Homo sapiens: one gene and its partner. The protein of the gene in region 1 interacts with the protein of each later gene in a pairwise test. Each region holds a gene or a part of one and is shown on either strand. Other genes may lie near its edges.

Region 1 (5,232 bases):
TGAGTAGATGAAATTTTCAATTGTGCATTCTCCACTTAATTGCATCACCTGCATTGTAAGTGAGTACATCATATGCCATTGAATTGCAGTGCCCTTAAAAGACAACAAAAACTATTTCTTATTTAGCCTTTCAGAAATTCAGAAATTTTAAGAATTTTACTACTTTAAAGTAAATCCAGTGACTTTTTTCCCTACATATAAAAACAATTCCTTCAAAAGAAATTCTGGTGGAATTCAATATTATTTGTCCTTAAAGTTTTAGGAACTCTGCATTGAAGAGGTTTATGTCTCAGTTTCATGTCAGTTCCCTCAGGTGTTTTGTAAACAGAACATCTAAAGAATGACATGGTGTAATTTTATTAGATGCTTTCAGAGAAGAAGAGCTATATATTTTTCCCGTTTATGTTTTTATCACTCATTTATTTCTTGTATGAATTTATTTCATCAAAGTAACTACATGTACGTAAGGTCTAGTAGTACTTAGATGTCTTGCTAGCCCTTTCCATCTGTCATTGCATTTTTCAGATGTGAGGATGGAGATGATTTATTTGCATTTTAAATATGAAGAAACAGGTTATGGGAACATTTTATAACTGCCCCAAATTTCCCAGGTAGCTGACTCATTGGACACTGAAGCTTCCAACTATTAGGAATATCTGGCATTCTATTTTCATGTAAAGGCAGACAGAACAAAAGAGTTTTCCATTCACAGAGATGAGCACATATGATAGAAGTACCTGATGTTACCTTTTTATTCTTTTGAGACAGAGTTTAATTCTTGTCACCCAGGCCGGAGTGCAATGGCATGTTCTTAGCTCACTGCAACCTCTGCCTCCCAGGTTCAAGCGATTCTCCTGCCTCAGCCTCCCAAGTAGCTGGGATTACAGGCATGTACCAGCACGCCTGGCTAATTTTGTATTTTTATTAGAGACGGGGTTTCACCACGTTGGCCAGGCTGGTCTTCAACTCCTGACCTCAGATGATCCACCCACTTCGGCCTCCCAAAGTGCTGGGATTATAGGCGTGAACCAGTGCACCTGGCCCTGATATTACCTTTTGGAGGATAGACCCCAACAATGCCCCTCATCCAGTTTCCATCTCAATTACTGTCTCTTCTCTAGTTTTGTCTCTTAGTCATTCCATGAACGTAGATGCTCAAGCACAGTTTTTATGTAAGTGTTTTAAATTTCCCTACAGCAAAAGCTATCAGGTATGATGGTAAGAGACAGCAGCAAACCGGTGGCATATACTTAAACATTAGGTAAAGGTCTAATAGCTTAAATTCCTGTTAAGATTAGTAATATAGAGAAAATTCCAACTGGAATATGAGCAAAAGAAATGAATAGGAGTGTCATAAAGAAAAGAAATTTATGAAAAAAACTTCACTAATAATTTAAATGTGTGAAAATGTTAATAAAATAGCTTTCTATTTATATATTGGTTTTACTTATATTGTCAATGACTTTTTTAGAAAAAGGAACTGAGTCCTATTTAGCCGGGGTCTAGAGATTCAGGAATGCTTGTACTGTTGCATGAAGAGTGAACTGGGAAAATCTTTGGAGAGGAAAATCTGCCATTACGCTTTCAAAACTTTTTTTTTTGGATGTTGATTTTCTTTTATTTATTTATTTATTTATTTATTTATTATTATTATACTTTAAGTTTTAGGGTACATGTGCACAATGTGCAGGTTTGTTACATATGTATACATGTGCCATGTTGGTGTGCTGCACCCATTAACTCGTCATTTAGCATTAGGTATATCTCCTAATGCTATCCCTCCCCACTCCCCCCACCCCACAACAGTCCCTGGAGTGTGATGTTCCCCTTCCTGTGTCCATGTGTTCTCATTGTTCAATTCCCACCTATGAGTGAGAACATGCAGCGTTTGGTTTTTTGTCCTTGCGATAGTTTGCTGAGAATGATGGTTTCCAGTTTCATCCATGTCCCTACAAAGGACATGAACTCATCCTTTTTTATGGCTGCATAGTATTCCATGGTGTATATGTGCCACATTTTCTTAATCCATCTATCGTTGTTGGACATTTGGGTTGGTTCCAAGTCTTTGCTATTGTGAATAGTGCCAGAATTAACATATGTGTGCATGTGTCTTTATAGCAGCATGATTTATAATCCTTTGGGTATATACCCAGTAATGGGATGGCTGGGTCAAATGGTATTTCTAGTTCTAGATCCCTGAGGAATTGCCACACTGACTTCCACAATGGTTGAACTAGTTTACAGTCCCACCAACAGTGTAAAAGTGTTGCTATTTCTCCACATCCTCTCCAGCACCTGTTGTTTCCTTTTTTTTTTTAACTTTAAAAAAATGTTAATAGAAAAAAAATGCCCAGATAAAGATACCGATCACAGTATCCACATCTATACAATGATTGATCCAGCTGTGGCCCTCCCCTCTCACCCAGCCCCATGTGGCTTCCTTTGAAACTGCAGACTGGAGATGACAGTGGTGAATTCTAGTCCTACTCACTGGATATCAGCATTTCTTTTTTTTAAAATTTTATTATTATTAAACTAAGTTTTAGGGTACATGTGCACAATGTGCAGGTTAGTTACATATGTATACATGTGCCATGCTGGTGTGCTGCACCCATTAACTCGTCATTTAGCATTAGGTATATCTGCTAATGCTATCCCTCCCGCCTCCCCCAACCCCACAACAGTCCCCAGAGTGTGATGTTCCCCTTCCTGTGTCCATGTGTTCTCATTGTTCAGTTCCCACCTATGAGTGAGAACATGTGGTGTTTGGTTTTTCGTCCTTGCGATAGTACTGAGAATGATGATTTCCAATTTCATCCATGTCCCTACAAAGGACATGAACTCATCCTTTTTTATGGCTGCATAGTATTCCATGGTGTATATGTGCCACATTTTCTTAATCCAGTCTATCATTGTTGGACATTTGGGTTGGTTCCAAGTCTTTGCTATTGTGAATAGTGCTGCAATAAACATACGTGTGCATGTGTCTTTATAGCAGCATGATTTATAATCCGTTGGGTATACACCCAGTAGCCATAAAAAATGATGAGTTCATGTCCTTTGTAGGGACATGAACATACATGTGCATGTGTCTTCATAGCAGCATGATTTATAGTCCTTTGGGTATATACCCAGTAATGGGATGGCTGGGTCAAATGGTATTTCTAGTTCTAGATCCCTGAGGAATCGCCACACTGACTTCCACAATGGTTGAACTAGTTTACAGTCGCACCAGCAGTGTAAAAGTGTTCCTGTTTCTCCACATCCTCTCCAGCACCTGTTGTTTCCTGACTTTTTAATGGTTGCCATTCTAACTGGTGTGAGATGGTATCTCATTGTGGTTTTGATTTGCATTTCCCTGATGGCCAGTGATGGTGAGCATTTTTTCATGTGGTTTTTGGCTGCATAAATGTTTTCTTTTGAGAAGTGTCTGTTCATGTCCTTCGCCCACTTTTTGATGGGGTTGTTTGCTTTTTTCTTGTAAATTTGTTTGAGTTCATTGTAGATTCTGGATATTAGCCCTTTGTCAGATGAGTAGGTTGCAAAAATTTTCTCCCATTTTGTAGGTTGCCTGTCCACTCTGATGGTAGTTTCTTTTGCTGTGCAGAAGCTCTTTAGTTTAATTAGATCCCATTTGTCAATTTTGGCTTTTGTTGCCATTGCTTTTAGTGTTTTAGACATGAAGTCCTTGCCCATGCCTATGTCCTGAATGGTAATGCCTAGGTTTTCTTCTAGGGTTTTTATGGTTTTAGGTCTAATGTTTAAGTCTTTAATCCATCTTGAATTAATTTTTGTATAAAGTGTAAGGAAGGGATCCAGTTTCAGCTTTCTACATATGGCTAACCAGTTTTCCCAGCATCATTTATTAAATAGGGAATCCTTTCCCCATTGCTTGTTTTTCTCAGGTTTGTCAAAGATCAGATAGTTGTAGATCTGTGGCGTTATTTCTGAGGGCTCTGTTCTGTTCCATTGATCTATATCTCTGTTTTGGTACCAGTACCATGCTGTTTTGGTTACTGTAGCCTTGTAGTATAGTTTGAAGTCAGGTAGCATGATGCCTCCAGCTTTGTTCTTTTGGCCTAGGATTGACTTGGCGATGTGGGCTCTTTTTTGGTTCCATATGAACTTTACAGTAGTTTTTTCCTATTCTGTGAAGAAAGTCATTGGTAGCTTGATGGGGATGGCATTGAATCTATAAATTACCTTGGGCAGTATGGACATTTTCACGATATTGATTCTTCCTACCCATGAGCATGGAATGTTCTTCCATTTGTTTGTATCCTCTTTTATTTCATCGAGCAGTGGTTTGTAGTTCTCCTTGAAGAGGTCCTTCACATCCCTTGTAAGTTGGATTCCTAGGTATTTTATTCTCTTTGAAGCAATTGTGAATGGGAGTTCACTCATGATTTGGCTCTCTGTTTGTCTGTTATTGGTGTATAAGAATGCTTGTGATTTTTGTACATTGACTTTGTATCCTGAGACTTTGCTGAAGTTGCTTATCAGCTTAAGGAGATTTTGGGCTGAGACAATGGGGTTTTCTAGATATACAATCATGTCATCTGCAAACAGGGACAATTTGACTTCCTCTTTTCCTAATTGAATACCCTTTATTTCCTTCTCCTGCCTGATTGCCCTGGCCAGAACTTCCAACACTATGTTGAATAGGAGTGGTGAGAGAGGGCACCCCTGTCTTGTGCCAGTTTTCAAAGGGAATGCTTCCAGTTTTTGCCCATTCAGTATGATATTGGCTGTGGGTTTGTCATAGATAGCTCTTATTATTTTGAGATATGTCCCATCAATACCTAATTTATTGAGAGTTTTTAGCATGAAGGGTTGTTGAATTTTGTCAAAGGCCTTTTCTGCATCTATTGAGATAATCATGTGGTTTTTGTCTTTGGGTTTCTTTATATGCTGTATTACATTTATTGATTTGCGTATGTTGAACCAGCCTTGCATCCCAGGGATGAAGCCCACTTGATCATGGTGGATAAGCTTTTTGATGTGCTGCTGGATTTGGTTTGCCAGTATTTTATTGAGGATTTTTACATCAATGTTCATCAAGGATATTGGTCTAAAATTCTCTTTTTTGGTTGTGTCTCTGCCTGGCTTTGGTATCAGGATGATGCTAGCCTCATAAAATGAGTTAGGGAGGATTCCCTCTTTTTCTATTGATTGGAATAGTTTCAGAAGGAATGGTACCAGCTCCTCCTTGTACCTCTGGTAGAATTCTGC
Region 2 (5,232 bases), on another chromosome or scaffold:
CATTGTCTTTATTATAGTTACATAGTAAAACGTAATATCCAATAGAGTAATTCCTTATTTTATTTTTCTTTTTCAAAATTGTTTTAGAGCTTCTAGGTCTTGTACTTTTACATATACATTTTAGAACATGCTTGTCTGTTTACAAAACAAAACAAAACAAAAAAACAGACTTGCTGGGATTTTGTTGACATTTATTTAACTTAAATAGACAGGCATGGCTATTGAATCAGCACATCTGACTGCTGATCTAATATGGTTGCTAACAACGTATCTATATTCTCTCCTTATTTTCAATATTGTCCTTAGGGGGGAGATAGCAATGTATAGAGGAAAAAGCATGAATTTAAAATAATCTAGGTTCAAATTCCAGACGTATTTCCTACTAACTTGCATGTATCTTTCTATTCTGTTAAAAAGACATAACTGTCTTACCAAGATGTTTTGAAGAATGAATAAAACTGAGATAATCTATGATGCATCTAGTACTAGCTGGTACATAGTTCATGCTCAATAAACGCTATTATCTCTTTCTCCCTTAAGATTCGATACCTTTAAATGGAATGGATTCCAACGTTTTTTCAGGTTAAAAAATTTGTATTGGGTGTTTAAATTGCTATATTTCCTCTTAAAGTTTGTCTTCAATCACTTTACAGGAGAGGCAGAGGGATTTCTTAGTAATAATTACCCATGGGTTTTGAAATTTTTTGTTAGAGATGTAATGGGATATTTGTCATTCAAAACAGAGTCACTATCTCCTTACTCAGCTAGTAAAATGGGTGAACAAGTTATTTAACCTCTTAGTTATATGGCTGAACTATATCAAAACTAGCTACGGTACTAAATTTTGTTTTTAATGCTACTGGAAAAGCAAATTCCTCAAAACTAAAGAGCAAGAACATACAGGGCAGTTCAAACAACCCAATTTGGCTCCAGTCATATCTTAAAACAACAACAAAATAAAACACACAGAAAAATATCACAATTCACAGATAATTTACTGCAGAGCTAATTGCTAGCTTACAAATTAATATTCTTTTTTTCCTATTGAATAATGACAACTACGTGACTATTTCTTTTTTTACTTTGGCCTAGAGCTGTGGTTTTTAACCCTGGCTGTGCATCATAAGCATCTGGGGAATAGATGCCCAGGCCCCCTCTAGATTAGTTAAATGTGAATCTCTGAGTGGAACACTGGCATGGATAATTTTTTTACACTCCCAGGTAAATATAACACACAGCCAGAGTTGAGAAAAACCAGCTAAGAAAACTCAAGGCCAAATTTATAATTCAACTATATTTTAAACATGTCATAGACCCTTACAGCCTGCTTATTTGTGCTCTATTTTACCCTTCATCCCCTACCCTCCACCCTTTTCATATATCTCCTACTTTGTTTTCCCTTATCCTCAATATCAAAATAGTTATCAGATTATATTTCCCATATACCATCTCAAATGCTTGGTAAAATGAAGCAAATCACAAGTAACACACATGCACTCTACTCCACCTTCCCTCTTTCTCTGTCTCTCTCTCTCTCTCTCTCTCTCTCTCACACACACACACACACACACACACACACGTGCACACAAAACTACAGCAGGACCTGTTTCTAATGTAGAGATACAGATTAAAATCTAGCAGTGAAATCAGTTACAGAATGTCTCCAGGGCAATTTAGAAAACGTCTCTTATCTGCAAAAGCCAGATTTAGCTCAGCTCTCTAAATCTCTCTCCCATCTAACTCCTTTCCTACCTAAAAACAAACAAAAATAAAGAAAATACACAACAAAAAAAAATATTGGCAGCAACAGTAAATAATCCTTGGAAATAACATAAATGAATAAACATTACATAGCAAATTCTGACAAAGTACTGAAAGGCTTATACCTCAAGATTCCAAGTGCTTATCAAATCTTAAGAACCGCTGCTACATACAATGATAGCACCAAGAAAGAAATTACAGGAAGGGAAAAAAATCTTGCATTTCCTCATCAAAATTCTAGATGAGAGAGACTATGAGAGGGTAGGTACTAAAACAATATGGCCCAGAAAAGCAACTACACTATCAGTAGGCCTTATCATGGAACACAGAGGTAATGATTAGCTCTCTTGATGAACTAATCAAGGTAGGGAAATATAGAGGACCTGCCCTGAAGGAACTGACCTGAATATTTCCAGATCAGACTGGCTTAAAGAAAGATTGACTTGGAGGAACTGAGAAGGCACCTGTGGCAGGGAGGGGCCACTGCCCTCTGACTCCTCCCCGCTTGTCTATTCCAAATAAACCTGGTGAAAGCATAGAAAAAATACAGATGTCCCTGCTCTCCTTCCACATTCCAGAAATAAGTACTGGTCATTATTTTCAGAATAGGACTCTGTACTCACGGCTGCTGACTACTGAAGATGAACATTGGTGAAACAAGAATTACAGGCCTAAGGCCCATTTAAAAAGAATTAAAAATGTTTTAGCTAGTAATAAGTGTATTCACCTTTGGTAGTAAAGAATTTAAGCATTCTAAGCACGATCAGAAACCTTCAGAGTGGAATGCTATTATTCAATACAATATTAGAAAGGGGAGATTTCATTTTAGCTTTCTATCTCCCTATACTGCAAAGATCTATTTATTTTTATATTAGTCTGGTGGCTAATACAGAGACTTATATTGGCAGGTATGCATTAAATACCTGTTACATTGAATTAATTCCTACCAGGACGCTTCTAATCTCAATTGTTTGTTATTTCTTTTTACTCTCCAACATCTAATCAGTTACCAAATTGTAACTATTCTACCTCTGCCAGGTCTCTCCCATCAGTCATCTCTTTTCTACCCCTTCTGTACTAGTTCAAAAATCTCACTACTACTTCCACTAACACAATAGCCTCCTAGCTGGAATTCCCCACCTTCCATATCTCCCCCATTCCTCACTACCGTCAATTATTTTTCAAAGCACAAATCTAATAATGTCACTCATGTCCTCAAAAACCTTCAGTGGCTCCTATTTATGAGATAAAATTGAACCCTTAAACTGGCTTAAAAAGTCCCATTCAACCTGGGCCTAGCTTACCTTTAATACATTCCTTATCTCTCACTATATCCCCTCTCCCACATCACAGACTTACAACAGTATCAGATTCTTCCTTCTTTCAGAACATTTCCATGCCTTTTCTTATATTGTGCCCATCCACGTGAAATATGCTCCTTTCATCTGTCTGTGAAAATATTATCACTTTCTAATGCCCTGCTCAAATTCCACCTCCTTCACAAAGCCTTACCAGATCCATTCCTAAACCACCACCACCCCCACCACCACCACCACCACCCCATTGTTGATAATCTTGTGCCTTTTACAATAACAATTTCCATACATGCCTGTCTTACTACCTGAATGTAAACCTGTGGGGGTAGGGTGGGACTCTGTGGTATATTTTTAGGCATTTCACATTACAGCACTATGTACAGCACTGCCTTGTACTCAATAAATGCTTCATGAATTGAACCAATTCCTACCATGACAAGAGTTCAGAATTTTTTTAAAAAATTAAAAATTTCAATGAAACACCTCATCAGCCAGATATAATAAATGAAATTATCTGTCTCTTCTTATCCTTCCACTGTTTCTAAATATAACTTTGTATTTTATCTCTGGATCACCCTATCTGTGATTACAAACATTCACAGTGAGAGCACCACTATACTTAGATGAAATGATCAAATTTAGGAAGGGGTCTTAAGAAAAACTGCTTACGAAATGGAAGGCTGCGGCTAAGGCCATGGTTATCTGAATCCCAGGATTTTAACATAGATGACAATAGTTCAGACTTTAGGGGCATGGGAAGAGGCATGATGACTGTGGGAAAAGAGAAGGAACTATTGTGTACTAGAGACTAAGTGCAAAACATCTTGCTAAGTTTATTAAACCCAGCACTGAATTTTCTTTACATAACAACTCTTGAAGATGTTTTTTCTCCAACTTATAGACAAAGAAAGTGAGGTTCAGAGAGGTTAGGTAACGTGGATTGTGTCACATCATGAGTATGGCATGGAGCTCGGACAAGAACCCAGATTTACCTGCCTTCAAAGCTGTTCTTTCCTCTATTACTATAGGGTCTCATGAAAATTAATTAAAACTAGAAGTTTTTCCCAAATTGGTTTTATCAGTAAACTACATACTCTCAAAACTAATTTGTTTAGACAGGCATGGTTGTGAGCACCTGTAGTCCCAGCTACTCGGGAACCTGAGGCATGAGGATTGTTTGAGTCCAGGAGTTCGAGGCCAGCCTGGACAATGTACAATGACATAGAAAGACCCTGACTCAAAAAAAAAAAAAAAAAAAAAAAACTAACTTGCTTAAATAAAAACAGCATTGCTAAAGAAATAATATAAAAGTACTACACGTTTACTATGATATGAAATGTGAAAATTACATCATCAACTTGATAAAGAAGCACTTGGTTCCTCACCAAAAAACAAACAACTAAGCGAACAAACTGTAACATGCATGGCATTAAATCATGAAAAGTTCACATTAGTCAAACAGGTTGTTCTTTATGATCCTTGCCCAGGAATGACCAATACCCATCCCATCTCAAGTAAAACCTCTTTCTTGATCCTGACAGAATCCAGTCAAAAGCTTAAATTGTGACTGCGTGAGGGGTGATGCCCTTTGAAGTTCCTATTCCCAGTAGACCTCATTGAGACAGTCCCTGCAAGAGCTCTCACAATCAGTTTCTTGCTTACCCTATTTCCCCTCTTCTAAGAACTCTCTTCCCAGAAACCAAAAGATTCCAGGTTTCCCCTTTTCAGGCCCATTCTCTACCTCTCACTGGAACCAAGCTAGTTATTGGTTGAAACCTGACACATTTCACCACAGAACAATTTTACAAACAGTGGTTAGGCTCGGCATCATTATACCTCGCTATTATGTACTGATCTAAAAATATAAGTACCCTTAATAAGTTTTTCCTGTGGGAAAACATGTTAAGAGTCTCAAACAACCAATTTACACACTTCTGAATGATAATTCAAAGGTTAACAACTGTCCATGCAAGCAAGACAGGTAAAAGATACAAAAAGACTCCAAAATATATGGTAGTGTCTATAATCTTTAATCTTACCAGATTCAACACACACAGAAATGGACGGAAATTATTTCTTTTGACATTAAAGTTAACAGATTCTTACCTACATTTTCTTTAAGGATTCTAGCACATTTTAAAAATATATATTCTAC

The links.
Region 2: the proteins of ZNF227 (region 1) and RPS6KA6 interact in a two-hybrid assay, tested with the Homo sapiens proteins (one large-scale study listed by BioGRID and IntAct).

What each region holds. Positions count from the first base shown.
Region 1 is NC_000019.10:44,218,144-44,223,375, forward strand, and holds part of ZNF227 (zinc finger protein 227), read left to right. Parts: intron 1-5,232. UniProt on the Homo sapiens protein: May be involved in transcriptional regulation.
Region 2 is NC_000023.11:84,180,514-84,185,745, forward strand, and holds part of RPS6KA6 (ribosomal protein S6 kinase alpha-6), read right to left. Parts: intron 1-5,232. UniProt on the Homo sapiens protein: Constitutively active serine/threonine-protein kinase that exhibits growth-factor-independent kinase activity and that may participate in p53/TP53-dependent cell growth arrest signaling and play an inhibitory role during embryogenesis.